3 separate regions of the Homo sapiens genome follow, and all the other regions are linked to region 2. Evidence: fine-mapped expression QTL. A gene starts in region 2. Each other region holds a variant in brackets. All regions are shown on one strand. Distances are from middle to middle. Region 1 has its middle 390 kb from the start of SGO1. Region 2 holds the start of EFHB (EF-hand domain family member B). Region 3 has its middle 180 kb from the start of EFHB.

The links.
Region 1: its variant is fine-mapped to the expression of EFHB in coronary artery (GTEx, PIP 0.98).
Region 3: its variant is fine-mapped to the expression of EFHB in sun-exposed skin (GTEx, PIP above 0.99).

What each region holds. Positions count from the first base shown.
Region 1 is chr3:20,574,418-20,585,097 of GRCh38, forward strand. No RefSeq gene overlaps it. Among named protein-coding and RNA genes, the nearest start is that of SGO1, 390 kb to the left of the region's middle. The variant A/G (reference allele first, on the strand shown) is at 4,589.
Region 2 is chr3:19,928,602-19,939,281 of GRCh38, forward strand. EFHB (EF-hand domain family member B) reads right to left here and starts at 5,616. Exons shown (of 13, transcript NM_144715.4): 1 at 4,629-5,616. The coding sequence starts at 5,417. RefSeq lists a silencer at 2,616-2,910.
Region 3 is chr3:19,751,557-19,762,236 of GRCh38, forward strand. No RefSeq gene overlaps it. Among named protein-coding and RNA genes, the nearest start is that of EFHB, 180 kb to the right of the region's middle. The variant C/T (reference allele first, on the strand shown) is at 6,241.

The sequences.
Region 1 (10,680 bases), 650 kb after region 2:
TAAAGCTAAAATAGCTACTTGGGTTGAAACAAAATGTGTGACCAGTTTTGATGACATAATAGGATTTTGTGGAAATGAAAGCCGGAATGCGGTGGGCTATGGAGAGAAATGAGGATGGTAGTGTGCATTTTGTCCAAGACACTTATGTTCGAAGGAAAAGTTATAGTAGCCGTGGAATAAAGCACCAGCTATTTCTAAAAATACAGTCCATGAAAGCAGATATACCCCTTATTGACTGTTATAAATTTCTTTTACAGTGTCTGACACTGAATTCATTTGTTAAATGAATGCATAAACTATATAGGAGAGACATGAGGATGTCTATTTATCAATAGAAAAAAAAAGAGACTCAGTGTAGGTGGTGGACTCCAAGTAAGAGCAAACTTTAAGAGAGCCTTGGGCTAAGATGTTGTGGCTAGGAGGAGGAGAAGCTCTGGGACTGAGCATAAAACACACACATTGGAATGAAGACTCTCCTACTCATACCCGTGGGAATAGGATGGTGAATAATGCCAGAAAATTTCAGTGCACTTCCACCGGGAAGTTGAGGGATGCAGAGACCTATTCGCATTCTTGAGATTTTGTGGATACGAATCCAATGTATCCTGACCTAGAATGACCTTCTAAAATGACAAAAATATCTCAGATAATTGTGGGTGTAACAGAGGTAAAAGAGGCTGAATTATTGAAATGGTAGCCTCAATTTTACCTGACATGCTGAGGAGAACTGGTCTTCATTTACAGTGTTTTGCCAGTCTCAGTGTTAATCATGCTGACTGCTCCTTTCAATACCCCTCTGAGGTAAGTTAGCTCCTCCATTAACCCTAATAGAAGAAGTCTGACTCAGCAGGAATACTAAATGAGAAACAGAGAAAATCCAATTCAGACCTTGCAGCCACCCAACCCAAGTTACTCTCTGAGGGCCTCATCATTCTTTTCTGCAGATAAAGATATACCAAGATTGACTCAGCACAGAATGCATGGATAAGCGTTGGACAATTAGAATACAGCTATCATGTGACTCAAAACCCCATATTTCTAGAATGAGCAAGCATACTATTAGAATGAGCATTCATATTATTAGAGCTATATTATTTTAAAACAGCTACTAGATTAAGAAAGGCGCCCCTGCCTAGTCCCTCTGCTGCCTTTAAGCATGTATGTGAAGTGTGAGAGACAGGTGATCACCACAGGTTCAAATAGAATTTTGTATGTGAATGTGGGTATAATATAACATTCTCCAGCTCCAACTTTGAATATGTGTAAGGCAGTCCCTGAGGAAGTTCTCTTCCTGACTACATATGAGCTATCCTCGTAGGGTAATTGCAAGAGTCTGAAATTCTATACTACCTAGTTTGGAGAACAAGCTGGTGTAATTTGAATTTTACCATTCATGAAACCACATTTGTATTCCCAGTAGTTTTGGAGAAGTGTGGTTGGATCCCTCCTTTGTGTAAAATCTCAGATCTCTCCTCCGACAGCTCAGGTTGAGCTCATGATACCTGTCTCCATGAGTTAAGATATAATGACAAGGTAATCTGATGATTTACTTTCCCTCTGTATGCCTTTGGGGTTTCTTTTCTTTTCTACCAGCAAATAATCAGGTAAGTGAAGTGATTTATGCTAGTGCAGATTTGAACTATGGGTTTGTTTAAAATTTGATATTTTGTTAATCATAATTTTTTGCATTAACTTAGATTTCATTTTTTAAAATTGGTGCAAAAAATTGTGATTAACAAAATATCATTTAGATTTTTAAAATCAAAACTTACGTAAAAATGTTGCATTATTATATTATTTACCTCAATAGCTAATTTTGTGTGTGTGTGTGTTAGGAGCATATCTTCTCTTAAGTGTTTTGCCTGAGTGAAGTGCCTACTCACGTTACCATATTCTCCGTGCTGGAAACAAGTATGTATTTATTAAAGCTTTGTTTTCCCTTTTAAAATAGTTTCCTTGGCTAGTTATATGAACTTAGATTCATTACATAACCAGTCCTTCTTGGGATAAAAACCAGATGGTGAATTGTTGTGCTCTGAGATAGATTTTGCTTTTGGAAATTTTCAGATAATAATGATTGCCACTTCATGTAGGTTTTGAAGAAGCCCTGAGGGTAATTGCAAAGGAATGACTAAAAAAGATATTGGACACAGGGATATCATTAAATAATAGATCTTTTTAAAAGTTGGTGCTCTGAAGATCCATTTCGGTAGTTAAGGTGAAGGTATGTTTGCTCCAAAGGCCACATTATTTTCTTTGTGTGCCACATATTTTTGATGAAGTAAATTTGAACTTACATAGTTCACATCATCCTGATGAAAAAACATATTAATTCCTTAAATAAATGCATGTGCTTATTTTGTTGACACAAACTAGAAATATGTATTTCTGAGAGGATAATATCTGGAATATGTATTTTCTCATTTACTGCACTGTTACTGAAAAAATCCTGCAAAGATTTTGTCTTAGGTCATTGTATTGTGGCCACATGCCTTCATATTCTTGATATGTCTGTATCTGCACACACCTATTTCTAATTTTTTGTTGTAACAGCTTTTGCCTGAAAGCGGTTTAGAATTTCTGTGATAGGAGAAGGGAAAGAGCAAGATAGAGAAATAGGACTTTCCCACTCTTGTTTCCCCACAGAAACATTAATTTGAAAAACCATTCATGTGTGAAAATACCTTCACAAGAGCTAAGGGAACCAGGTAAGAGATCACAACACCGGGATGTAGCACAGAAAAAAAAAAGATGTATTGAAGAGGTCAAAAAGAACAGTTTTACATTAACTGCATTACCCTTTACCCAAATGCAGGCAGCACAGTGTGGAGAAGGATGCTCTCTGCATGTGGGAAGGACAGGGAAGTAAGGACCAGATTCTGCCTTGGACCCCAGCATAGGCCACTGTAGTAAAACCCAGCACGGGGCAGGCTTCTGTGGACCCAGGCGCCAGACTGAAACTTGCAGACTGAGTTATTACACTTGCCCCAGTGCCTTGCTATTATCACATAGCACCAAGCTCCAGGCCTGCCTGCTGAACTCAACCTCTGGTCTTCCCTACCACTGGGCTGACCTCAGTGGCTCCAGGCCTCAGACCACCCTTAGTGCCAGGCCAGCTCCAGTGGAGCTGGGCCTTGGGCTTATACCAGTGGCACCAGCATTTGGACCTGCTCAGGGTCAGGCTGACTCCAATAACCCCAGGCTCCAGACCACCCCCAGTGTCAGGCTGACCCCTATGGCCCTGGGCTTCAGGCTTGTCACAGCACTATCTACCCCCAAAGCCATTAGGGGGTAATGGCTCATTAGGCCAGCACCCATGGCCAGCCCCTCCAGATACAAGTTCCAGGTCCATCTAGCACTAGGACAGCTCCTGCACCCCCAGACACCAGGCCCATCCTAGGATCCAGACAAGGCCAGAACTAAGTTGATCCACACAGCCCTAGGTGTCATGCCTGTTCCAGTGCCAGATTTGCACATGGCTTTAGGCACTATGTCAACACACATGGACACAGACTCTAGGCTCCCCAGCAGAGTGAGTCTCCAGCAACACTCTTACATATCCAAGCTTCAGAGTAGACATTGTGGACCTAAGGCCTAGGTTTACCCTTGAAGACTTAGGATCCAGGCCCGTTCCAGAGGACACAGACTTCAGACCCATCCTACTGCCCGGCCAGCCCCTTCAGATTCAGACTCACAGCCCATGTCAGTGCCAAGTCAGCCTCTGTGGACATAGGTGTCATGTTAGTTCTCAAGGGTATAGGCTCCAGGCTCACCCCAGTAGACCTACTTGACAGGCCCATTCTAGTGGATCCAGGACCACCCAGTGGCAGACCCAGGCACCATGCCAGTAGCTAGATGACTCCAGCAGCAAGCCTTCCAATAAACTATGCCAGAAGGCCTGCCCAAAGTTTCTGAATGGGCTGGCAAGTAAAGGGCTTTCCCAGACAAAGCCAGCCTATAAAGACATAATTAAATGTATACTTCTTCAAATGGGCAGACACCAATGCATGGCCAGAAAAATCAAGGACAATGAGGGAAACATGATATCTCTGAAGGGAAATAAAGTGCCAGTGATGATTCTAAATAAATAAAAATGTTTGAGTAGCCTGAAAAGGAATTCAAAATACTGTTTTAAGTAAGCTCAGTGAACTTCAAAAAAAATACAGAGAAACAATTCAAAAAAATGAAGAAAACAATAAATGACCAAAATGAGAAATTTAATAGAGATAGAAATGTTTAAAAAATTGAATAGAAATTCTGGAGCTAATGCAATCAATGAAATGAAAAATGTGTGTATGTGTATGTGTGTGTGTGTGAGAGAGAGAGAAGGGGGGGAGAGAGAGAGAAAGAGCAAGAGAGAATCAGTTGCAGAATTGATCAAGCCAAAGTACATCTGAACTCAAAGACAGGGTATTTGAACATATGCAGTCAGAGGAGCAAAAAGAAAAAAAGAATGAAATGTAATGAAGAAAGTTTATGGGAGTAGTGGGACAGCATCAGAAGAGCAAATTTTCAAGTCAAAGGACCTCAAGAAAGAGAAAAGGAAGACGAAGGTGTTGAAAGCTTATTTAAAAAAACAATAGTGAAA[A/G]CTTTCCAAACCTAGGGAAAGATACAAACATCTAGGTACAGGAATGTCAAAGGTCTACAATTAGGTTCAATCTGAACAAGCCTAGCCCAATACATATTGTAATCAAATTGTCAAAAATCAAAGCAGAGAGGATTCTGAAAGCAGCAAGAAAAAAGAAGCAAGTAATATTTAAGGGAGTTCCAATAGGCTAGCAGATTTCTCAACAGAAATTTTACAGGCTAGGAGAGAGTGGGATGATATATTTATAGTTCTGAAGGAAAAAAACCCCATCTGTCAATAATACTGTGCCTGGAAATTCTGTTCTTCAGAAATAAAGGAGAGATAAAGACTTTTCCAGACAAACAAAATTTGAGGTAGTTCATTACCATGAGATCTGTCTTACAATAAATGCTAAAGGAGCTCTTCATGCTGAAAGAAGAGGTTGCTAATTAGTAACATGAAAACATATGAAAATATAAAACTCACAGGTAAAAGTAAGCACACAGTCAGAAGAATACTTGAATACTCTAATAATAGCATGTAAACCATTACATCGTTAGTATGAAGGTTAAAAGACAAAACTATTAAAAGTAATAATAGCTACAATAATTTGTTAAGGGATATGCAATATAAAAGATATGAATTATACCATCACAATTCAAAATATAGAAGGAGAGTGGAGTAAAAATGTGGAGTTTGTGTGTGTGTGTGTGATCAAAGTTAAGTTGTTAACAGCTTAAAACAGCCTGTTATATTTTCATAAGCCTCATGGTGACCCTGAAGCAAAAACCAATAGTGGATATGTAATAAATAAATAGCAAAGAACCAAAGGATAGCACTATAGAAAACCACTTACACAGGAAGACAGCAAGAGAAGATGAAAAAGGACTTAAGAAAAGATGGAAAACAATTAGCAAAAGGGCAGTAGTAAGTTCTTGCTTATCTATAATTATCTTAAATGTAAATAAATTCTTCAAACAAAGGACACAGAGTGGCTTAATGAATATAAGAAACAAAACACAACCATTTGCTGCCTAAAAGAAACTCATTTCACTTGTAAGGACACAAGTAGTCTGAAAGTGAAGAGATAGAAAAAGATATTTTATGCAAATAGAATCCATAAAATAGCACAGGTTAAAAATTATATCAAATACAATAGCCTTTAAGTCAAAACTGTAAAGTGAAGGTAATTACAAAGAAGGTAATTTATAATGACAAAGGGGTCAGTTCAGCAAGATGAGATAGCAATTGTAAATACATTCAATATTGGAGCACCTAAATATAAAAAAAATTAATAGAACTGAAGGGAGAAATAAACTGCAATACAATAATAGGGTACTTTAATATACCACTTTTAGCAATGGACCAATCATCCAGATAGCAAATAAACAAGAAAATATTGGACTTAAACTATATTTTAGACCAAATGGGACATAACAGACCAATATAGAACATTTTGCCAAACAGCAGCAGAATACACATACTTCTCAAGTGCACACAGAACCTTCTCCAGGGTAGATCATATGTTAGGCCACAAAGTAAGTCTTAGCAAATTTTAAAATACTGAAATTATATTATGTATCATTTCTGATCACAATGGTATGAAATTGGATATCAAAAACACCTTGAATTTGTGGAAAAATTCACAAATACATAAACATTAAACAACTTACTCCTAAACAACTAGTGGGTCAATGAAGAAATTAAAAGGGAAATTAAAAAATATCTTGAGACAAATGAAAATGAAAACACAACATACTAAACTTATGAGATGAAGCAAAAGTCGTTCTAACAGGGAGTTTTATAGCACTAAATGCTTACATCAAAAAAAGAAGAAAGAGATCAAGTAAGCAACCTAAGACTGCACCCCAAGGAAATAGAAAAAGAACAGACTAACCCCAAAATTAGTAAAAAGAAGGAAATAATAAAGCTGAAAGCAGAAATAGAGTAGAAAAACAATATAAAAGGTCAATGAAACTAAGAGTTGGTTTTTTGAAAAGATAAAAGTGCAATCCCCAAATTCATATGAAACCACAAAAGACCCCAAATACCCATAGCGATCTTAAGCAAGAAAAATAAAGCTGGAATTATCACATTATCTGATTTAAAAATATGCTACAAAGCTACAGTAATCAAAAACAGCATGGTACTGGCATGGAAATAGACACATAGATCAATGGTACAGAATAGACTGGAAATAAATCCATGCATTTATGACCAACTGATTTTTTTATAAAGATGCCAGGAATACACAATGTGTGAAGGACAATCTTTTAAATAAATTTTGTTGGTAAAACTATATCCACATGCAGAAGAATGAAATTAGACCCTTATCTCATACCATATACCAAAATAAATCCGAAATGAATTAAGGACTTAGAAATAACATGCAAAGCTATAAAACCATCAGAAAAAATACAGTGGAAAAGCTCCATGCTATTGATCTGCATAATGATTTCTTTTTGTCTGTAACCCCAAAAGAATAGGCAACAAAAGCAAAAACAGACAAATGGAATTACATCAAAGTTAAAATCTGCATAAAAAAGGAAGCAATTGACAGGATGGAGAGACATCCTATGGAATGGGAGAAAATATTTGCAAACCATATATCTGATAAGAAGTGAATATCCAAAATATATAAGGAACTCAATAGCAAGAAAATGAATAGCCTGATTTAAAAATGGGGCAAGAACGTAGACAGACATTTCTCAAGAGAAAACATACAAATGACCAACAGGTATGTGAAAAAATGATCGACATCACTAATCATCAGAGAAATGCACATTAAAACCACAAGGAGTTATCAGCTCACACTTGTTAGAAAGGCTTTTATAAAAAAGATGAAAGATAAGTGTTGGTGAGGATGTAAAGAAAAAGAAATTCTTTTTTTTTTTTTTTTGAGATGGAGTTTCACTCTTGTCGCCCAGGCTGGAATGCAGTGGTGCGATCTTAGCTCGCTGTAACCTCTGCCTTCCGGGTTCAAGCGATTCTCCTACCTCTGCCTCCTGAATAGCTGGGATTACAAGCACTGGCCACCACGCCCAGCTAATTTTTGTATTTTTAGTAGAGACAGGGTTTTGCCACGTTGGCCAGGCTTGTCTCGAACTCCTAGACTCAGGTGATCCACCCACCTTGGCCTCCCAAAGTGCTGGGATTACAGGCGTGAGCCACCACGCCTGGCCAAGAAAAAGAAATTTTTACACACTATTGCTGTGAATGTAAAATTAGTGTAGTCATTATAAAAAACAGTATGAGGCTCCTCAAAAAATTAAAAACAGAACTACCATAATATCCAGCATTCCCATTATTGGGTATATAGCCAAAGGAAGTGAAGTTAGTATGTTGAAAAGATATTTGCATTTTCACGTTCTTTGCAGCATTATTCACAATGGCCAAGATAGCAAATCAAACTGTCTGTCAATGGATGAATGAATTAAAAAAATATGGCATAGATACACAATGGAATACTATTCAGCCATTAAATAGTCATGTGTGACAACATGGATGAACCTGGAGGACTTTATGTTAAGTGAAGTAAGCCAGGCACAGAATGACAAACCCCACATGATCTCACTTATATGTGGAATCTTAAAAAGTTGAACTCATAGAAGTAGAGAGTAGAGTGATGGTTACCAGAGGCTGGGGTGGTGATGAGGGAGTAGGGGTTGGACAGACTTTGGTCAAAGGACACAAAATTTCCTATAAATAGGAAGAAAAAGTTCAAGAAATCTTTTGTACAATGTGGTGACTATGGTTAAAAATGCTAACAGTAGATTTTAAGGGTTCTCATTAGAAAAATGATAACTATATGAGGTAATACATATGTTAATTTGATTTAGCCATTCCACAATGTATATATGTTTCAACATATAATGTTTTACACAGTAAATATATATATTTTTTTGTTTTTCAATTAAGAAAATAAAAAACATTAAAAATTGCTGTGATATTTACTTTAAGAAAGCTAAGCATTGCAGACCTTCTTGGTGCTATTGGTATTTGTTACAAACCATAGTTGTTACCCAGTCACAATCACACATAGTACCAACTCTCCAATCTTACATATATTCTCATTTTTCTTGGGAAAATACCTAGGTGTAAATTTATTGAATTATGTAGTAAGTGACTGTAAGGAACTTCTGAACTGTTATTAAAAAGATCTGCATCATTCTTATTCCCACCAGAAATGTATGAGTTTTTGTGGTGCTGGATGCTTGCCAGAACTTTGTGTTGCCTATTTGTTTCCTTTTGTTATTCTAGTAGATGGGTAGGGGTATCCAGTGCGATTTACATTTTTATTTCCTCAGCCACAAAACATGAAGATTTCTGTTACTCAAGAAAACTGACTGATGGTCAGTTTTAACTGGGTAATAGTTTAAAACTTTTCAACTTGATTCTTCTAAGATTATCTAACACGTTATACATAAAGTAATATATATTATTATTAGCAGAAATATAATGAGTTTATACTTCAAGAGTAGGGAACTACTTAAGGAGATAAATGTAACATCTGTTAATTTATTTGCAGTCAGCCTAATTTAAAATTTTAAAGCATAATAGGTATTTATTTTGTTGGTGGTTTTGTTTTCTAAGAAATAGTAAGTCAAAACTAATAAAAAATCAACTGGTTACATTTTCATTATAAGTAGTAATTTATATGCAATATTAGAAACTTCAAATATTATTTTGTATTGGTGTACATAAAAAGTAATTGTAGAATTAATTATTGACTATTTTTCCTTTAGTAGTCAAAACTATTCATTTATGATTTTAAGTGTGCTTGGCTTTAAGTATATACTGACTGCTTAGGAATTTAGCTCTTCTCATACTTCAAAACACTTTGAATAAATAGTAAGTGCTTTTGAAAATACTTTTCTGTGCATGTTCTGATGGCTAGGGACTGGTAATAAGTTACATGCCTGTGTCAAGTGCAGGTCTGGTGTAGAATTACTATCAACTACATTGATAAATGATGCAATTTACTGTAGTATTCTGATTTTTTTAATAACATTACACTGCTATGTAGAGTACTTCACCTATTTTTTTTTCTGATGGAGGAATTGACACTGTCAAGTGAATATAAATAAAGTTGAAAATACTTTGATACACAATCCTTGAGATAATTTATACATAATTTTTGATAATTCTGACTCCCTAAATTCTTTTTTCTTCGATTATAGAAACTGATCAAGTGCATGTATTTGCTTGAATATGCACATATTGCCAGCATTTATCCATTCAATTTTGTATTTATACACTGGAGCCTCACCTATTCTATGTAGATAATTTCAAAGAATTCAAATAAAAAAAACAGGATGGTGACAATTCATTATTTTGACTTTACTGTCTTAGGAGACAATGATGGTGTTCTATTAAAGTGCTACTCAAAGTATGTTTTGTGGGTGGATGTTGGTCCACAAACATAGTGGCTTACAATGACATATGTTCAGAAATTGAAGGCACACATTTTGAAACTTTTAAAGTAATTGGAAATCGTCATGACTTCCAAGCAGTGCAATGCAGAAAAGTTGGTCTATGATGACCTGGGGTGGGACAAGGGCCAGGGGTAGGGTTAATATGATCCTTCATTAGATGCTTTGAAAAACGCTTATCGATAACATAATAGCAATTCTCTGAATTCTTTGACTTTGAAATATAACTTTATTGAGTGCTATGTGTCAGGTACCATGCTAAATATTTTACAGTGGTGTCTTATTTATCCCACATACGATTCCTACTGTGTGTTCTTGTTGGATCCATTTTACAGAAGCGCAAAGAAGTATCTTGCTTAAGGTCACACAGCTAGCAGATACATATCAAGATAACTATGGAGAATAAAGTAGCTTTAGGTAAACTGATAATTCTACTTTGACAGTAGTTCTTGCTGGTTTTGGCTCTTACATGTGCAACCGAAGGACAGTAAGTGATGTATATACATTGTAGGACTTTCTGAGACGTGTGCCTCTGGTTTAGGATGGATGAGTGGACAACCAACCTAGATAAATCACAGCCTTACTATTTCAGGGGTGAAAAGAATCCTCTGTCCCAGTGTGAACACTTCAGATATATGTTACCACATAAAAAAACATAAATCTCACTCATAACCAATAGGA
Region 2 (10,680 bases):
ACCCAGCTAATTTTTTAGTTTTTAGTAGAGACGGAGTTTTGCCATATTGGCCAGGCTGGTCTCAAACTCCTGACCTCAGGTGATCTGTCTGCCTTGGCCTCCCAAAGCACTGGGATTTCAGGGGTGAGCCACCGTGCCCGTCCAAAAGACATTGTTTTTAATATTGTATTTTTTTTCTTATCATAGCCAATGCAGTGAGGTAGGAAATAGAGATAGATGAAAGGTATAGATACTAAAGAGAAAAGGACAAAAGTGTCAATATGATTGTCAACCTAAAATATCCATACACAAGCAAAATAGTCATTAAAAAAGGAAATAATGATAAGCAATTATGACTAATAAGAGTTCAGCAAGGTGACCACACACAAGGATTAAAAAAAAATAAAAACAAACATATGGAGCAATTTTCAATCTAATTATAAGTTAAAGAAACATAAATTAAAATAATGCCTAACAAATTATTATGATTTTTAAAATTTATTGCTACAATCTTTTAGGAAGAGATTTGGCAATAGAAACTAGAAAAAGATCCATGCTTTTGGCTTCTGCTGAAACTCTATCCTTAAGCAAATATTCCAATACATATAAAAAGACTTTTTTTTTAACTTTTTTTTTTTTTAAGAGACAAGGTCTCACTATGTTGCCCAGGTTGATCTCAAACTCCTGGGCTCAAGCAGTCCTCCCACTTCAGCCTCACAAAATGCTGGGATTATAGGCATGAGCCACCATGCCTGGCTGACAAACTATTTTATAGAAAATTCTGGAAGAATAAAAAATGAATACCCAACAATAGAGGGAAAGAGTTAACTAAAGAATTGGCTTGGCCAGGTGTGGTGGCTCACGCCTGTAATCCCTGCACTTTGGGAGGCTGAGGTGGGTGTATCACGAGGTCAGGAGTTCAAGACCAGCCTGGCCAATATGATGAAACCCTGTCCATCTCTACTAAAAATACAAAAAATTAGCCGGGTGTGGGGGCAGGCACCTGTAATTCCAGCCACTCAGGAGGCTGAGGCAGGAGAATTGCTTGAACCCAGGAGGCGGAGATTGCAGCGAGCCGAGATGGTGCCACTGCACTCCAGCCTGGGCGAGAGCGTGAGACTCCATCTCAAAAAAAAAAAAAAAAAAAAAGAATTGGCTTAAATATTTTTTATCATTAAAAGATCTTTTTGAAGTCTTTGTAGTAATAGTTAAATCTTATAAATAACAAATGAAAAATCAAAACAAATTTTGCACTCGATAATAACAACTACATAAAAGTGCATTTGGATAAAAGTGTCATAAAAAGTATAGAGTAACTAACAACTCAGGCTCTCAAATAGGAATTTGAGATTTCAAATCCCACCACTTTTTAGCTATATGACTTTAGCCGAATTACCTAAATTTGCTTCCATTTCTTTACCTGTAAAATAGGATTTAGTAATAGTAGATGACTCACAGGTTGCAATAAGGGCAAACGAATTAATACCTGCAAAGGTCTATGAATAGCCATATTAATATAGTAAGCCACCAATAAATATTAATAATCGTGAAACAGTAAAGTGCTAATAGGCATTGTGTTAAGGTGATAAGATTCTAGGCATTTTCATCCCTGTTTTCTAAATTTTCTATAATGTTATTATTCTTGTGTTATAATCAAAATAAATATTTTAACATCTTAAAAATTATTTTTAAATGAAGCCTTGTTTCTAACAAAGTTAGAATCCCTCCTCTTGCCTATAATCCTAATTCCATTCCCTTCCACTCATCTAGAATCTGGTTCCACCCATTCTCTTCCTTTGTGTTATCTCAAACTCCTCCACTGATTCACTAAATAATAAGATTTCTAAGTGGAATATTTACTCTTTCTCTTCACTGTCATACTTCTTAAGAGAAAAAAATTTCATGATAGCTTTCTCCGATTCTAATAACCCATTCGCTCTTCAGTATATTATAATCTGAATTCTTTTTCTATTATGTCGTTCTAACAATGTTGGTAATTTCTTAATGTCCAAAGTTAATTAATCTTATTTTTACTTTATTTTTAGAGACAGGATCTCATTTTGTCACCCAGACTGGAATGCAGTGGTGTGATCATAGCTCACTGGAACCTTGAACTCCCAGGCTCAAATGATCTTCGCACCTCTCCCAAGTAGCTAGGACTACAGGCACATACTACCACACCTGGCTAATTTTTCTTTTTTGTATAGGCAGAGTCTTGCTATGTTGCCCAGGCTGATGACAAACTCCTGGCCTCGAGAAATCCTGCTGCCTGCTGGGCGTGGTGGCTCATGCCTGTAATCCCAGCACTTTGGGAGGCCAAGGTGGGCCGAACACTTGAGGTCAGGAGTAGGGGACCAGCCTGGCCAACATGGCGAAACCCCTTCTCTATTAAAAATACAAAAATTAAATTTAGAAAAAAAAGAAGGAAAAAAAATTAGCCGGGTGTGGTGGCATGCTCCTAGAATTCCAGCTACTGGGAGGCTGAGGCACAAGAATCGCTTAAGCCTGGGAGGCCGAGTTTGCAGCAAGCTGAGATTGCACCCCTGCACTCCAGCCTGGGTGATGGAGTGAGACTCTGTCTCAAAAAACAAAACAAAACAAAAAAACCCTCCTGCCTCAGCCTCCCAAAGTGCTGGGATTACAGCTAGTGCCACTGCACAAGGCCTATCAGAGATGATTTAACACTGCTGGTCACTCTCTCCTTGACACTCTCTTTCTTGTCCTATCACATTTAGAAAGGAAGGTATGCGAAGTGGGAGGAAGCAGAGGTTTTAGAATTGCCTGTGCTGGAAACTGGAAGCTGGTGTCTGCATGTGTGTGAGATCAGATCAGATCAGAAGCTGTAAATTGCAGAACCAATCCAGAAATGGGAACCGGTGTGGTCAAGTAAAGTGGCTGGGAAAACCCAAAGAGGAAACCAGAAAGCAGTGTGAGACAAAGAAGAAAAGAACATTCTGAGTCTGAAGGGGAAAAGTCTTCAAACCCAGACAAAATTCTGTGGAAGCCCTGTGACCTCTTCAGCTGAGTTTTATTTTCAAATTTCAGTGTGTGGAATCTCTTACTCACATTATAACTTAAGGACACTTTCTTATGTTTCTCAATACCAATGTCTCAGACTTACTTTTTTCTTCTCCGACTGGTCTTTCTCCCATTTAATCATCCGGGTTTCCTTCTATTTATCAAACATGTATTTATTGAATGACCACCATAAGCCAGGTATTGTGGTATGACATGAAGGTAAACAATGAACAAGATATAGTCCTTGCCCTCAAGAACTCACCTTATTGACATCTTTTTCACTGACCACCTCATGTCAATGTTTCCCAAGATTCTTGCCTTGACTTTCTTCTCCCATTCACACCCATGGGGCATCAATTGTCTCATATTACCAAGTGTTTCCCTGGCTTCTTTACCTGTCATCTCATATTGAAGATAGCCAACACTGGACATTCATTTGCCACCAAACCCAAAGAGATCATTATCAACACAGAAACTCCTGAGTCATCCACCAACTTCCCTTACTCACCACGTAGATCCACAACTGAGTGGCAATTTTTTAAAATGTCATCTAAAAACCTCTCAAAAGTGCAGTCTCCTTTCTATTCTTTCTAACTCTACATTAATTCCAGTCCATCAGAACTTTGGAATGTTGTTCTAACTACCTACTTGTCATTCAGTATCTCCCCCTTCCAGTCCATCATAACTACTGATATCAGAATTATCTTTCTAAAAGGCAAATTTTATTTATTTTTACCCTTATTAAGATCCACCATTGATACTGTATCCATATGTTTTATCCCTATATTCTGGGCCTTTAGATGTCTTCTACATATTTCTTCTTCATCTTCATCTCTCAACACCCTGCTGGCTGAATACAACTGTTTATGCCTCTCGAACATAGGAAGCTTTGGTTGTGCTCTATACCTTTTTATGCCCAAAATGCTCTAACCTCATTCTTTCTTCAGACAAATACTGACACCTTTCGATGTTAGCTCAAATATTACTTTCCCTATTAAGCTTTTCCCATCTCTTCTAAACAGAATTGTGCAATCTTTACACTGAGCTCTGTATTCAGAGTGTACTTCTATGAAGGAAGAATCATGTGTGTTTTTATAAATTTAGATAACTGTATACTATTCCTTTAGTTATCTGTCTCCATTACTGGAGTGAGCCTAAACCTAGAGGTAGGGACCATGTACTTTTCAATTTAGTTTGTCCTGTACCTGGCACAATGGCTACCACAAGTCTTTGCTGAAAGAACAAATAACTCACAGACTAAACAATGAATGGAAAAAGAAACACTTTTCTTTTCCATTCATAGTATGAATATTAGGGCACAGCATGTATCTTCATGTATTTCAATATGTGAGAGGCTTGAGGAAAATGAAATGAAGGTTAAAGGAGAAAAGAGAAATCAGAACAAACCACCGGTGTGCAGAGAAAACAAAGCTGACATCTAGGAAGGGAGGCAGAGAATCAGAAATCTAAGTAACATCTGCAAAGATTCCAGTGGGGCAAGAAATATAGGAATCTCATAAAATCCTTGTGATTTGTCTCTTCAAACCAAAACAAATTTTATCACTTTATCATCTCAATAAAGACATGGCTATACACAGTTTAGTTCCTATGGAAAGTGGAAAAAAACTTACACTTGGCCAGCAAGGGGTCCGATCAAAAAACTTCCCAGAGTATATGGGTCTGATGCGATCTGGAGGTTCCACTCCTGATTCAATGTTTCCAGCCTCCTTTCTCTGTTCATGTTGTTGGGCAAACTGGCATTGGGGAGGTTCTATCACCAAGCCCATTTGGGGCTCTGTATTCTTAGTCTCATCTGGCCCCTCGGCTTGGGTTAGTCCAATGTCCACCTCCACAGGAAGCTTAATCTCTGTGTTGGGTTTCATTAAAACACAGGTAGACTCTTTTTCCATTTCCTGTCTTGGTTCCATAACGAAAGCAGGCTTTCCCACTAATTCCTCTACCCCTTCAGGGCCACTAGCCAAAGGAGCTCTCCTGCTCCCTGCAGCCTGTGAACTTCCACACACCCTGCCCAAAGGAGGCTGTATTATCCGTTCATGGGTATATCCTGCAAGAAGACTCTCATTTTCTAACCCCATTCTTCCTGGCAACAGAGAAGGTTTTGTTCCCTGTGAAGCTGAGACACTGTCGACTCCTAAACTACCCCTCTGCATGACAGTCCTAGAAATATTCTGTCTTTCTAATCCCATTTCAAGCCCCTTGCTCAATGGAAATTTTGTTTCTGGTGGTGCCATCCTTCCCTCACACTTATTACTAACCACAGGGCTCTCCCCGCATCGGGAATCTTCTTTTCCTAATCCTACTCTGATCCCCAACTCCATGGGAAATTTTGTTCCCATGATGACCCTCTTGTCTCCTAAATCATCCTTTCCTTCGTGGGGATGTCCAATCTCCATGTTCATGGACGATTTCTCCCCATTCTCATTTCTCCAAGAGCGCTCATCTCTAAGGGGAAAGCTGTACCTGGCTACAAAGACGCCTCCAATCCCTTGCGGAACCCCTCTCTCAGGAAAGAGCACAACCTCACTCGGACTCCCTGTCCATTGCTTCCTGCCTGCCTCTTAACACCTAGCCGAGTTCACAGAGGAAAAGATGGAGTCTGTTTATCAGGTTACCTGGGAAACAGGGGCGGGGCTTGGCGCTCAAGTCCTGCTTGGACAGATCCCTGCCCATCTCTCATTCTTCTCTCTCTCTCTCTCAATCTCTCTCTCTCTCCCCTCTTCTCTCTCCTCTGTCTCTCTCTCTCCCCTCTTCTCTCTCCTCTGTTTCTCTCTGCCCCCCCTTCTCTCTCCTCTCTCTCCCTCTCCTCTCCTTTGCCCTCTCCCTCTCTCTCCCTCTCTGTGTGTCTCTCTCTCTTGCCTTTCCTCTCTCCTTTCTCCCTCTCTCCCCTCCCTCCCCCTCTTCCCCTCTATCCCTGCTTCCTCTCTCTTTTTCTTTGCTAGATTTGGAGGGCGAGAAAATTTGAGTGATGTGGCTTTCGGCGCATCAAATGTTCACCAACTTCTCTGGTTTCCCAAGCAACACAGTCGTTTTAGAATGGTTTCAACAATTGGCTTCTTCCTGGCCATTGGCCTCTTAATGTTGGTGATGATGAACAAATAAACTTTCTGGTGATGAACACTTTTTTTAGGTCCTTCCTTGTCCAAGTACCTCCGCCCTGCATGTAGTTATTTTAGTGCTAAAAAATGACTTTAAATTCTAGAAATATTATATTTGACAACTGTGGCATAAAGACATCTTAAAGTCCTTGAGAACACTTACACTTTAACAACTAGGCTTTAAATCACATTTAAAGTAATTTTTTTTTTTTTTGAGATGGAGTCTCCCTTTGTCGCCCAGGCTGGAGTGCAGTGGCACAATCTGGGCTCACTGCAAACTCCGCCTCCTGGGTCCAAGCGATTCTCCTGCCTCAGCCTTCCGGGTAGCTGGGATTACAGGCATGCGCCACCATGCTAGGCTAATTTTTGTATCTTGAGTAGAAACGGGGTTTCACCATGTTGGCCAGGCTGGTCTCAAACACCTGACCTCAAGTGATCCACCGCCTCGGCCTTCCAAAGTGTCGGATTACAGGCGTGAGCCACTGCTCCTGGCCTAAACTAAATATTTTAAAGTTTGAGATATGCTACACAATAAGGCATATTGTATTTTAAAGATAATGTGGCAAACTAAAACTTCATTGTTTTTAAGTAGGAGATTTTTTTTTAAATTGAGGTTTCACCTTTCAGATTTTAATGAAAGTATATTTGGTAAATATTTGTCATGTTCTACACATATAGGATATGAAACCCCTAGCTTGGAATTTGAACTGAATTAGGCTGGGCACAGTGGCTCACACCTTTAATCCCAGCACTTTGGGAGGCCGAGGCAGGCAGATCACTTGAGGTCAGGAGTTTGAGACCAGCCTGGCCAACATCGCGAAACCCTGTCTCTACTAAAAATATAAAAATTAGCTGGGCATGGTGTCCAGCGCCTGTAATCCCAGCTACTCAGGAGGCTGAGGCAAGAGAATCATTTAAACCCGGAGGCAGAGGTTGCAGTGAGCCTTGATGGTGCCACGACACTCAAGCCTGAACAACAGAGTGAGATTCCATTTAAAAATAAAAAACCAAAAATGGCCGGGCGCAGTGGCTCATGCCTGTAATCCCGGCACTTTGGGAGGTAGAGGCGGGTGGATCACGAGGTCAGGAGTTCGAGACCATCCTGGCCAACATGGTGAAACCCCGTTTCTACTTAAAATACAAAAATTAGCTGGGCCTGATGGCAGGCGCCTGTAGTCCCAGCTACTTGGGAGGCTGAGGTAGAAGAATCGCTTGAACCTGGGAGGCGGAGGTTGCAGTAAGCCGAGATCACACCACTGCACTCCAGCCTGGCGACAGAGTGAGACTCCATCTCAAAAAAAAAAAAAAAAAAAAAGCAAAACAGAATTTGAAAAGAATTTACAGGATTCCAGAACTCTACAAAAACCCCTTAAAATCCAAAAATATTTTTTTAAAAGTGTGTAGGGGTCTGGACATAGTCACTCACCTGTAATCTCAACACTTCGGGAAGCCAAGGCAGAAGAATTGCTTAACGCCAAGAATTCAATTAGCCCAGCGTGGTGGCTCACATCTGTAGTCTCAGCTATCTGAGAGGCTGAAGTGGGAGGATCACTTGAGCCCAGGAGGTCTATGCGGCAGTGAGCCATCATTGCACCATTGCATGCCAGCCTGGGCGACAGACTGAAAAAAAAAAAAGTCCAGGAGTTCAAGACATGCATGGGTAACACAGTGAGACCTATCCCTACAAAAAATTTCAAAAATCAGCCAGGTGTAGTGGTACATGCCTATAGTCCTAGCTACTCAGGAGGCTGAGGTGGGAGGATCACTTGAGCCCAGGAATTGAAGGCTGTAGTGAGATATGATCATGCCACTACACTCTAGCCTGGGTGATACAGTGAGATCCTGTCTCAAAAAATAAAAATAAAAAATAAGGCCAGGCGCAGTGGCTCATACCTGTAATCCCAGCACTGTGGGAGGCCTAGGCGGGTGGATCATTTGAGGTCAGGAGTTCGAGACCAGCCTGACCAACATGGTGAAACCCTCTTTCTACTAAAAATACAAAAATGAGCTGGACATGGTGGCCAGCACTTGTAATCCCAGCTACTAGGGAGGCTGAGGAAGGAGAATCGCTTGAACCCAGGAGGTGGAGGTTGCAGTGAGCCAAGATTGCGCCATTGCACTCCAGCCTGGATGACAAGAGCCAAACTCCATCTCAAAATAATAAATAAATAAATAAATAAATAAATAAATAAATAAATAAAAAGTGAGAAGGATATACTAGGGAGGCTGAGGCAGGAGGATCACTTGAGTTCGAGACCAGCCTGGCCAACATGACGAAACCCCATCTCTACTAAAAATACAAAAATTAACTGGGCATTGTGATGCTCACTTGTAATCTCAGCTACTCGGGAGGCTGAGGCAGGAGAATCACTTGAACCGGGGAGGCAGAGGTTGCAGTGAGCCGAGATCGCACCACTGCACTCCAGCCTGGATAACAGAATAAGACTGTCTCAAAAAAAAACACAAAAAACTATTTTCTACAACTTTCTAGAAGGTTAATATAAATATTCTTCTCCTTAGTTCTTTTTTTATGGTGCCAAATTTAAATAGTTTTATTTAAGACATTGCATTTTCCATTTGCAATACAGTGTTTATAAAGTGCAATGTTATTTCCTTCCACATGCACATGTTCCATACTCAAGTATTGAGAATGCCCAAGAATTTACTATAGCAGCTCAATTTTTAAACTGCTACAGACAGTCATATTGTGACCATGAAGAAGTATTCTGAAGACAAAGCTAACACACACAAAATAGGAGAGCACCGAGATCATCAGGACCAAAGCTCTGATCAAACTGTACCTAAAACTCACATAACTCTAGACTTACCAGTCACATGGGCCAATGTCCCTGCTTGACTCACATTTTCTGTTATCTGTAACTGAAACATCTTTATGTCTACCACACTTAACAGTCAACATCCCTTAAGACTTTACCTCCAGAAAACTTTTCATGGCTGGTAAATACTCTTCTCTCTTTTCCTTTGAGCTCCTCCAGTACCAAGAGTCTGAGTCACTCACCTTATCACTTCTCTCTCTCAGACATACACACATACAACAAACGCTTGTGGCATATTTGTGGTATTTTACCTAACTTTCTGCCCTTCCCTTGGTTATAGCCCTGACCCTGGTACAAGATAACATTCAACATTTGTTACACTAAATTGTGACTGTCAGTGCTTCTGTCTCCTCCTCCCCTGAAGACTGTTAGCTCCTGCGGCCTGACAGTCCCTTGACTCAACTCCTCTCTACTTCAATGTTTTATGCTTTGACCCAAAAAGACGGGGCTTAGTAGTGAGAGAGGTGGAAGACTGAAGGGCATCCATCCGAACTTGTTTACTAACATTTATGTGTTCTTCCCTAGTTACCTGCCTCCATGCCTTTGCTGGAGAGGGAGCCACCTAGGTTCCCTTCACCTGGAATGTCTATTTTCACACATTCCAAACTCAAGGCCAACTCTGAAAGGAGAAAGGGCTGTGATTGACTGGGAAAGGACATGTGGCAACTTTCTGAGATTACGGTAGTGTTCCGTATCTCAATAGGGATGTGGATTACACAGGTATATACATTTGTCAAAACATGAAATTATACTCTTAAGACGCTTGCATTTACTTCATTTTATGGATATTTGAACTTTAAAAAGGTTCACATATTGAACTCTAGTAAATGGCATGCATGATGAAATGTTTAAAGGAATGTGTACACATGCTCATAATTTTGAAATGCATAAAGTGTTGATACATGGCTGGACATATGTGATAAAGCCAAGTGTAGTAAAATGCTAATTGTAGAATCTGGGTGGTAGATATATGGGTGTTCACAGTACAATTACTTTGATTTTCTGAATGTTTGAAAATGTTCATCATAAAATGTTAGGAAAAAAATAAGAGATGTGGGTCAACATCTCTGGTATCTTCACAGTCACAGACTTGATTTAGACCTCATTACATCTTAACTGGAATCTTGCAATCACCTTTACACTGGCCTTCATGTTAGCCCACTGCAGTCTCTCCTCACCCCAAGGATCGCCAGAGAGAACCTTCAGAAGCAAAAATTGGACCTCCGTGATCCAGTCTCTGCCAACCTCTTCAGCTTTATCCCTGACGCTTGCCACCTTACTGCGGCCTGTACTACAGCTCAACCCAGGGCGTGTAGTTCCACTCGCACACTGGGCTATTTTATGACTTTCTGGTTTGCTTTTGTTTTGTTTTTGAGAAGGAGTCTCACTCTGTCACCCAGGCTGCAGTGCAGTGGCACAATCTTGGCTCACTGCAACCTCTGTCTCCAGGGCTCAAGCGATTCTCCTGCCTCAGCCTCCCTTGTAGCTGAAACTACAGGCACCCGCCACCATGCCCAGCTAATTTTTGTACTTTCAGTAGAGACAGGGTTTCACCATGTTGGTCAGGCTGGTCTCAAACTCCTGACCTCAGGTGATCCACCTGCCTTGGCCTCCCAAAGTGCTGGATTACATGCACGAGTCAACATGCCCAGCCTACTTTATGACTTTCTGCTTTTGCCCCTGTTGTCCCCCTTGCTTGGAATGCTTTATTCCAACTCATCCTCTGCCCT
Region 3 (10,680 bases), 180 kb before region 2:
GCTGACGTCTTCCATCTTGCTGTTTGTTCTCTATTTGCCCCATCTGTTCTATATTCCTTTTTCTCCCCTTTCTCGTCTTCTGCTATACTCATTAGGCATTTTTACTTCCATTTTCCCCTTTATTAAACAATTAGTTATATGTTTTTAATGGTTATAGCTGTTGCAACATGCCTTACATACCATAAGGTTAATTCGACTTCTTCCTTTCCAATTTGGATACACTTTATTTCTTTCTCTGGGCCACTTGCTCTGGCTAGGACTTCTAGTACTATGTTGAATAAAAGTGATGAAAGTGGGCATCTTGGCCCTCTCTCACCACTCTTATTCAACATAGTGTTGGAAGTTCTGGCCAGGGCAATCAGGCAGGAGAAGGAAATAAAGGGTATTCAATTAGGAAAAGAGGAAGTCAAATTGTCCCTGTTTGCAGATGACATGATTGTATATCTAGAAAACCCCATCGTCTCAGCCCAAAATCGCCTTAAGCTGATAAGCAACTTTAGCAAAGTCTCAAGATACAAAATCAATGTGCAAAAATCACAAGCATTCTTATACACCAATAACAGACAAACAGAGAGCCAAATCATGAGTGAACTCCCATTCACAATTGCTTCAAAGAGAATAAAATACCTAGGAATCCAACTTACAAGGGATGTGAAGGACCTCTTCAAGGAGAACTACAAACCACTGCTCAATGAAATAAAAGAGGATACAAACAAATGGAAGAACATTCCATTCTCATGGGTAGGAAGAATCAATATTGTGAAAATGGCCATACCGCCCAAGGTAATTTATGGATTCAATGCCATCCCCATCAAGCTACCAATGACTTTCTTCACAGAATTGGAAAAAACTACTTTAAAGTTCATATGGAACCAAAAAAGAGCCCGCATCGCCAAGTCAATCCTAAGCCAAAAGAACAAAGCTGGAGGCATCATGCTACCTGACTTCAAACTATACTACAAGGCTACAGTAACCAAAACAGCATGGTACTGGTACCAAAACAGAGATATAGACCAATGGAACAGAACAGAGCCCTCAGAAATAATGCCACACATCTACAACCATCTGATCTTTGACAAACCTGACAAAAACAAGAAATAGGGAAAGGATTCCCTATTTAACAAATGGTGCTGGGAAAACTGGCTAGACATATGTAGAAAGCTGAAACTGGATCCCTTCCTTACACCTTATACAAAAATTAATTCAAGATGGAGTAAAGACTTAAATGTTAGACCTAAAACCACAAAAACCCTAAAAGAAAACCTAGGCAATACCATTCAGGACATAGGCATGGGCAAGGACTTCATGTCTAAAACACCAAAAGCAATGGCAACAAAAGCCAAAATTGACAAATGAGATCTAATTAAACTAAAGAGCTTCTGCACAGCAAAAGAAACTACCATCAGAGTGAACAAGCAACCTACAGAATGGGAGAAAATTTTTGCAATCTACTCATCTGACAAAGGGCTAATATCCAGAATCTACAATGAACTCAAACAAATTTACAAGAAAAAAACAAACCCATCAACAAGTGGGCGAAGGATATGAACAGACACGTCTCAAAAAAAGACATGTATGCAGCCAAAAGACACATGAAAAAATGCTCATCATCACTGGCCATCAGAGAAATGCAAATCAAAACCACAATGAGATACCATCTCACACCAGTTAGAATGGAGATCATTAAAAAGTCAGGAAACAACAGGTGCTGGAGAGGATGTGAATAGGAACACTTTTACACTGTCGGTGGGACTGTAAACTAGTTCAACCATTGTGGAAGTCAGTGTGGCGATTCCTCAGGGATCTAGAACTAGAAATACCATTTGACCCAGCCATCCCATTACTGGGTATATACCCAAAGGATTATAAATCATGCTCTATAAAGGCACATGCACACGTATGTTTACTGCGGCACTATTCACAATAGCAAAGACTTGGAACCAATCCAAATGTCCAACAATGATAGACTGGATGAAGAAAATGTGGCACATATACACCATGGAATACTATGCAGCCATAAAAATGATGAGTTCATGTCTTTTGTAGGGACATGGATGAAGCTGGAAACCATCATTCTCGGCAAACTATCTCAAGGACAAAAAACCAAACACCGCATGTTCTCACTCATAGGTGGGAATTGAACAATGAGAACACTTGGACACAGGAAGAGGAACATCACATACTGGGGCCTGTTGTGGGGTGGGGGAAGGGGGGAGGGATAGCATTAGGAGATATACCGAATGTAAATGATGAGTTAATGGGTACAGCACACCAACATGGCGCATGTATACATATGTAACAAACCTGCACATTGTGCACATGTACCCTAAAACTTAAAGTATAATAAAAAAATTTAAAAAAAAATGGAAGTGGGCATCTTTGTCTTGTTCCAGATTTTAGTGGAAAGGCTTCTAATTTTTCCCCACGTCATATGATACTAGCTGTGGATTTGTTATATATGACCATTACAGTGTTGAGGCATGTTCCTTCTGTACCCAATTTGTTAAGAGTTTTTATCATGAAGGATGTTGAATTTCATTGAATGCTTTTCTATCATCAATTGAAATTACCATTTTTTGTCCTTGATTCTGTTGATATGATGTTATCATGTTTATTGATTTGTGTGTGTTGAACCATCCTATACACACAATTTTTATCTGTTCCACGGCAAATTTTCTTATATTTTTTTCTGTCCCTAATGCCCCTTTTTATTAGGGACATGTGGTGAGAACATGCGGTGTTTGATTTTCTGTCCTTGTGATAGTTTGCTGAGAATGATGGTTTCCAGCTTCATCCAGGTACCTACAAAGGACATGAACTCATCCTTTTTATGGCTGCATAGTATTCCATGGTATATATGTGCCACATTTTCTTAATCCAGTCTATCATTGATGGACATTTGGATTGGTTCCAAGTCTTTGCTATTGTGAATAGTGCCACAATAAACATACGTGTGCATGTGTCTTTATAGTAGCATGATTTATAATCCTTTGGGTATATACCCAGTAACGGGATGGCTGGGTCAAATGGTATTTGCACTGTTTTTGTTTAACTTCTGCTTCTCTTTCTTATTTATTTATTTATCTTGGAATATTCTTCCTCAAGCTATGGGTAAATTGATTGTGTAGAAAGAAACAAGGCCATGTTCCAGGCTAGGAGAACTTTCCTTATGACCTGCAATGGAACATATTCTTCAGTCCTATACTTCTCCCCTGCCAGTGGAGTGAAGCAGCTTTCTGAAGACTCAGTGTAGTCTCTCCCCACTACCCTGCCTCACTAATAGTTTCCTGCAATATGGATTTTCTCTGTGACATGATTTGTTCAGCACAAACTTCACTTTCAAAACCGACCATATTAAGGGAAGCTTCTGCACCTTCTCCTTTCACCTTGCTTCCCTTGTTGCAATAAGGAATTCGGATTTTGAACTTCAAGAAGGACCTTTCAGTTTGAAAAAGAGTGCCCTTGTGCTCTCTGAGGTCTATAAGTTGTAGGTATCTTTGCTCCACTGTCCCCCTTGTTCCTCTTTGTTTTTGGCAGCCCATCCATGTATTTTGTGATTTTGTGTTTCTGTTGTTCTCTAAGATGAGTTTGCATTTCTAGTCCCCTCTCTTAGGGGGAAGGACAACTAGGGATTTCTAGAATGAAGTCATGCTGCCTTTTCTGGTTTTGTCAAACCAGAAGTACAGACAATTCTTTTATTATTATTATTGTTTTTTATTATTATACTTTAAGTTCTAGGGTACATGTGCACAACGTGCAGGTTTGATACATAGGTATACATGTGCTATGTTTGTTTGCTGCACCCATCAACTCGTCATTTACATTAGGTATTTCTCCTAATGCTATCCCTCCCCCAGCCCCCCACCCCACGACAGGCCCTGGTGTGTGATGTTCCCCACCCTGTGTCCAAGTGATCTTGTTGTTCAATTCCCACCTATGAGTGAGAACATGCGGTGTTTGGTTTTCTGTCCTTGTGATAGTTTGCTGAGAATGATGGTTTCCAGCTTCATCCATGGCCCTACAAAGGACATGAACTCATCCTTCTTATGGCTGCATAGTATTCCATGGTATATATGTGCCACATTTTCTTAATCCAGTCTATCATTGAGGACATTTGGATTGGTTCCAAGTCTTTGCTATTGTGAATAGTGCCACAATAAACATACGTGTGCATGTGTCTTTATAGTAGCATGATTTATAATCCTTTGGGTATATACCCAGTAATGGGATGGCTGGGTCAAATGGTATTTCTAGCTCTATATCCTTGAGGGATTACCACACTGTCTTCCACAATGGTTGAAGTAATTTACACTCCCACCAACAGGGTCAAAGCGTTCCTATTTCTCCATATCCTCTCCAGCATCTGTTGTTTCCTGGCTCTTTAATGATTGCCATTCTAACAGGCATGAGATGGTATTTCATTGTGGTTTCAATTTGCATTTCTCTGATGGTCAGTGATGATGAGCATTTTTCATGTGACAGACAATTCTTTTACAAGTTTAGCTGTGAAAAGGAATTGAACATGGCTTGTAGCTGGAGAAGAATGTGGGAGTCAATGGAGAGTTTTCGTTTAGATAAAGGATCCAAAGGTTATTGGTGTTGTTGGCTGATGAGAATATTGAGTGGAAAGGAAGTAATGATAATGGAAGAGAGAGAGAGGAGTTAGAGAAAGAATAAAGTCTTTGAGAATTTCACTTTTCCTCAGGTATAATAGGAGCAAAGATAGAGAAGATGGGGCTGATGCAGGTATGCTTATAGATCTGGTGGAAGGTACATGAACACCTTCCCATTTGATGACTGCCATACCTCATTAAAATATGAGCTGAACAAAAGGAGACATACAAATGGCCAAAAAAAAGTATGAAAAAATGTTCCACATCACTAATCATCAGAGAGATGCAAATCAAAACTGCAGTGAGATACCATCTCACACCATTCAGAATTGCTATTACTAAAAAATCAAAAAATAACAGATGCCAGGAAGGTTTCAGAGAAAATAGAGCTTATACACTATTGGTGGGAATGTAAACTAGTTTAGCCCCTGTGGAAAGCAGTTTGGAGATTTCTCAAAGAACTAACAATGGAATTGCCATTTGGCCCAGCAATCTAATTACTGGGTATATACCCAAAAGAAAATAAATTGTTCTGCCAAAAAGACACATGCACTAATATGTTTCTTGCAGCACTATTCACAATAGCAAAGACATGGAACCAACCCAAGTACCCATCAACGGTGGACTGCACAAAGAAAATGTGGTATATATATACCATGGAATACTACACACCCACAAAAAGGCAAACAAAATCTTGTTCTTTGCAGCAACATGGATGCAGCTGGAGGCCATTATCTTAAGTGAATAATTGCAGAAATAGAAAACCAAATACTGCATGTTCTCACTTATAAGTGGGAGCTGAACATTGGGTATACATGAACATAAAGATGGGAACAATAGACACTGGGGATTTCAAGAGGGAGGAGAGGAAAACTACCTATTGGGTACTATGTTCACTATTTGAGTGATGGGATCAATAGAAGCCCAAACCTCATTATCATGCGGTACACCCATATAACAAACCTGCACATGCACTCCTTGAATTTAAAAAAAAGTTTTAGTTAAAAAAATATGTGAGCTGAGGACACCAACCTAAAAGAAGGAGGAGAAAAGAGAAAAAGTCACAGAGAGAGAAGATGGTAGGAAACAGTAACCTTGGAAGATGTATAATTCCAAGAGACACATTGCTGGACATTTGAGTCTTGAAATCAACCTTTGTATACTTAATTGCTTTTATGTCGGAATAGTTTTTTTTTCCAACTTTTAAAAGCTGGAATCCTTATGAAGATAACCTATATAGCAATGCCAATAAAAGCTTGACTGGTGGGAAAGTTTTTAACACAGAGAGGCAGATAGGAAGCATTCCTGGCAAGGGAAATGCAATGAACAAAAAAGCACAAAAACAGGATGCCATGGAGCATGGACAGGCATCATGGAAAATATATTAAACCACACTTTAAACTCTTGGTCTTTATTGATTAAACCACCCTTTTCAAATGTGAAATTATCGTCTACCAGGCCACAACAAAACTATTGTGGCAATATGAAATGCAGACATGTATAGAATTCTTGAGCTGTGATTGACGTCATGCTGACCAAACACACACACACACACACACACACAAACCAAAAAAAAAAAAACAAAAAACAAAAGAATGCTTTATTGCCCATTGTTGTACTAATGGCA[C/T]TCAAACACATCTACAATACAATTGGTGTTCAAAGCAATGTGACTAGAGCCATATGGTTACTCCTGCACTTACCATCCAAGGATCATTGCTTTCCCACTACTGTGTGACTTCTAAGCCTGAGTCATAAAAATTCACTGTTTCCACATTGTTCATTGGAACACTCAAATTTTGATCCCTGAGTCCACCTATCTTGATGACATTATGCTGTGAGGAATTCAGACCACACAGAGATGCCACTCCTGCTGTAGTCCTAGTTTTTGAGTCATTCCTGCCTAAGAACCAAACATGCAAGTAAGCAAGCCTTCAAATAATTCCAACCACCATCCATTAAGTCACTTTCAGCCTTATAGTCCTCCCAGCTAAGGCCCTAGTCATTCTGGACCAGAGACAATTTATTGCCATTAAGACCTATTTGAATTCCTCACCCATAGAATCCAAGGGCACAAAAAAAGAAAAAGTTGTTTTAAGCTGTTAAATTTTGTAGTAATTTCTTATGCAGAAATAGTAACTAGCATAGTAATATTTTAAACAAGCAAGTGATACACATACAGCAGTAAGATATCTTTAATTAAGCCACCATTATGTGTAAAATTGCCGTGTTTTTGTTTTTGTTTTGAGACAGGGTCTGACTCTGTTGCCCAGGCTGGAGTGCTGGAGTGCAGTGGCGCGATCTCGTCTCACTGCAACCTTGACCTCCCTGGCTCAAGAGATCCTCCCACCTCAGCCCCCTGAGTAGCACATGCCACTGTGCCTGGCTAATTTTTTTTTTTTTCCCTAGAGACGGGGTTTCACCATGCTGCCCAAGCTGGTCTCCAATGCCAGAGCTCCAGGGATCTGCTCATTGTGGCCTCCCAAAGTGCTGGGATTACAGGTGTTAGCCATGTGTGCCTGACCTGTGGTGGGATTTTTAAAATAAGCAAGACACCGAATCCTTACTTTTAGACTCTGAAAAAGACACTTTATAAGAACTGTACAAGACAAGTGGACATGGCAGTGTTATTAGCAACAGAATGATTATAGACACTCTTTCCAAAAGACAGTGTTTTTAGATTGGAATTTGTCAGAAGTGAAGGAAAGGTTGTAAAAGTCAGGAAATGTAAAGCTGCTTTTCTCATTTAGGAGAAAACAGTGAAGCTGGGTGCCCTTCTCATCTCTCACCAAACAAATGTACTTCCTTTGTGAGGTTGGCAGTGAAAAGACTAACTGGTCTATAAATTATTGAAATGGCATCTGGTTAGATGTTGATATGGTCATTTAAAATTAAAATGTGTTGTATTAGCAAGTGCATGTTTATGGAAGAATTAGGCACTCACATATCAGAGAAAATGAATTCATAAACATGATCATAAATCTTCTAACTTATCAATTGATACTTTGCTCTCTTTCAGATATTTCCTAAGCTCTGCTTCCATCTTTTATTTAGGGATACAAAATGTCTTGACATTAAAACCAGATAAGAAAATATATACAATTATATATACAATTAGAATTATTATATGCTAAAACATGTATTTGTTCAAAGACAAGACAGAAAGAATAGCCATCACTTGGGAGTCATTAGATTGATACAGAAAAGGCATTATCTTGGATCTGGAACAATATACAAGATAAATGCTCACACAGTTATCACTGGGAGTGGAATTCGGGCAGAGGAGGAATTACTCACTTTCTGCATCATGAACATCTGTAGTGTTCCATTTTTTACAAAAATAATGTGTTGCTTTTTGGATGCCAATTCAAACAAATTAACGTTTATAAAATACTCAAGGAAATCTGAACACTAACTGGATATTAAATAAGAAAATGGTGTTGTGATTATACTTTTTAAGGGTCTTATATTTTAAAGAGATACTGAAATATTTTCAGATGAAATATTTTAATATGTCTGGGATTTCCTTTCTAATAATCCAAGGGGTGGGAGGAATGGGTAGAGAGTTAGAAAAAATAAGATAGATCATGTACGAATAACTGTGAGGCTGAGTGTTGAGTAAATAAATGTCTCCACTTTCCTATGTGTGTGAAATTCACCATGACACAGTGTTAGAAACATAAATTGCTTTTATAGTCAAAAGTAAATGTATATGTTTAAATAATATGTTCTCCCAATAAACAGATCCATCATAAACGATACTATAAGTGACATTTAATGATCATGAAAGATGTTGATATATTGTCAAGGGATACAAACAAAAATGTTAAAATACATATATGCTTAAACACACACATAATATATGTAATATATATAATTGTACAATAAACGTAATATAACATAATAATAAACTTATATGAATGCATTTATGAATGCATTTATACATAAAGATAGGGCTAGAAAGAAATAGACCAAAACATTATTGATCATCTCATGCTACTGGTATTAGAGGTAATTATTTTGTTCTTCTTTTTGTAATTAAAAAAAGGATCATTTAAAGTTATACAGAATAAATAATAATCTCAAAAGAGAAACTGAAGAAACATTTTGTTAAGTACTTTTGTGGCTTTTTTATTTTATACATAGTTTTTTCCTTTTCAAAAGCTGGAAAACTTAGAGTTTTAGAATATATATGATGTACATACATTGCTACTCAGCATACTATGCTTCCAGCTATTCCTAAAACAGTGCAAGAAATGATTTTAAACTACAACTGTCTGCCGTGATTACTCCTGGAGATAGGATCACAAGGACATTTAACAGATATTTTTCATCTAATAACATTTCTGATTTCAACTCCAGAAGAAAGACAGCAATTTTATTCAGAAATAGAAATAATCATAAGCTGGAAAATTTATTCTGATTTATGTTCTTTAGTTTTGAGATTCAGAGATAGAAATGCAACCAAGAGCCCACTATTTTCGGAATTGGCTAAACTGAAAATTAAGGCATAGACTTACTAGTCAATTTGGGTAAATACCATCAAATGCTACAGATACAGAAGTTTCTGGTTTGGGGTTAGGAAAGGTAGTCAAGGATTTTTCCAAACCTCTCCATCAAACAATAGTGACAAGGCCTATTTATTCTTGCCTGCAGCTCCCAAAATTAATTGGCTGCACCTTTTAAAATATCCCAAATCAGTTCTTAATAGACAAATTGATGTCTCTGTGAGGTAAACTTTTGTTTACAATACTCTGTGAACATGAAACTAAAGCATCAAAGCAAGAATTTCTGATAACGTTATTCATAAAATTAAACTGACTAAACCAAGTTCCAAATGACAAATTTACATTCAAATGAGTTTAAGGGTATTTTTTCTCCTATGTTCCATCAGTTAGTTTTGTGAATGTAGATACTTCCTGCACATGATGCTTGACATTGTGTGGGACAAAAAGTCTAAGAAAACGTATTTGACTGATATGTTAATTTTTTACTGGTATGTTAATAGTCATTATACTTCAGCCATATACTTCTGTAACACAGATCCTTATGTCCTGGTATCCATGCCCTTGTAAAATCCCCTCCCTTTGAATGTTGGTGGGAACTGTGGCTTGCTTTTAGCCAATAGTGATGGTGAGTCACTTGAATGATTACGTTTCATAGAATTGTGACCTCCATCTTACAAGAAGACTCTCTCCCTTGCTGGATCTGATGAAGCACGTGACCAGATTCAGAGGCCTATGGTGCAAGACACTAAGGACAGCCTCTGGGAACTGGCGGTGACCTCGAGCCAACAGCAAAAATTGGGAACCCTTTACCTTATAACCTCAAGGAACTAAATTCTGTCAACCACCACGTGAGGTTAGAAGGAGATACTTCCCCATTCAAGTCTTCAGATAACAACCCAACCCTGTCTGATACCTTGATTTCATCCTTGCAGAGAACTAGCTAAGCCATGACCACAGAAACTGTGAGATAATAAATGTGTGCTGTCTTAAGCCACTAAGTTTGTGAAAATATTGTTTTGTAGCGAATCATATTAATACAGCTTTATTTTCACAATTGGACAAAACTTAATTCTGTCATATTTCATAAAGTAGAGCAACTTTTAGCTCCAAATATAACCAAAAAAAGGTTAAACATTGGACTAAAAAGAGTTAGTCCAATTAATAAAGTTGTGATTTCTCTCTAAATAAGCTGCACTTTTATATTCAAAATACCAGCTGTGGTAATTTTATGATGTAAGCTATTTTCCATAATATAGTTTTCTGTTTTAAAATATACAAGGTTAAATTAGATCTGAAGTAAATACTAATAAGAGAGACACACAAACTGATCTAATTTTATTTTCTAATTCTCTTTTTGCCATGACTTCCAAGCCTGCAGAAATTTTACTCCTCTGTTTCAGAACCACAGAGTATATTAGAAGAGGTAAGAAAGAAAACTATTATTTACCCTGTGCCTGCTATATTTCAAACCCTGGACTAGATACTTGACATACATTCTCTTGTTTAATTTTTATAACCACTCTGCAATGTAGGCATTAGTTCTAGCATTTTACTGTTAAAGA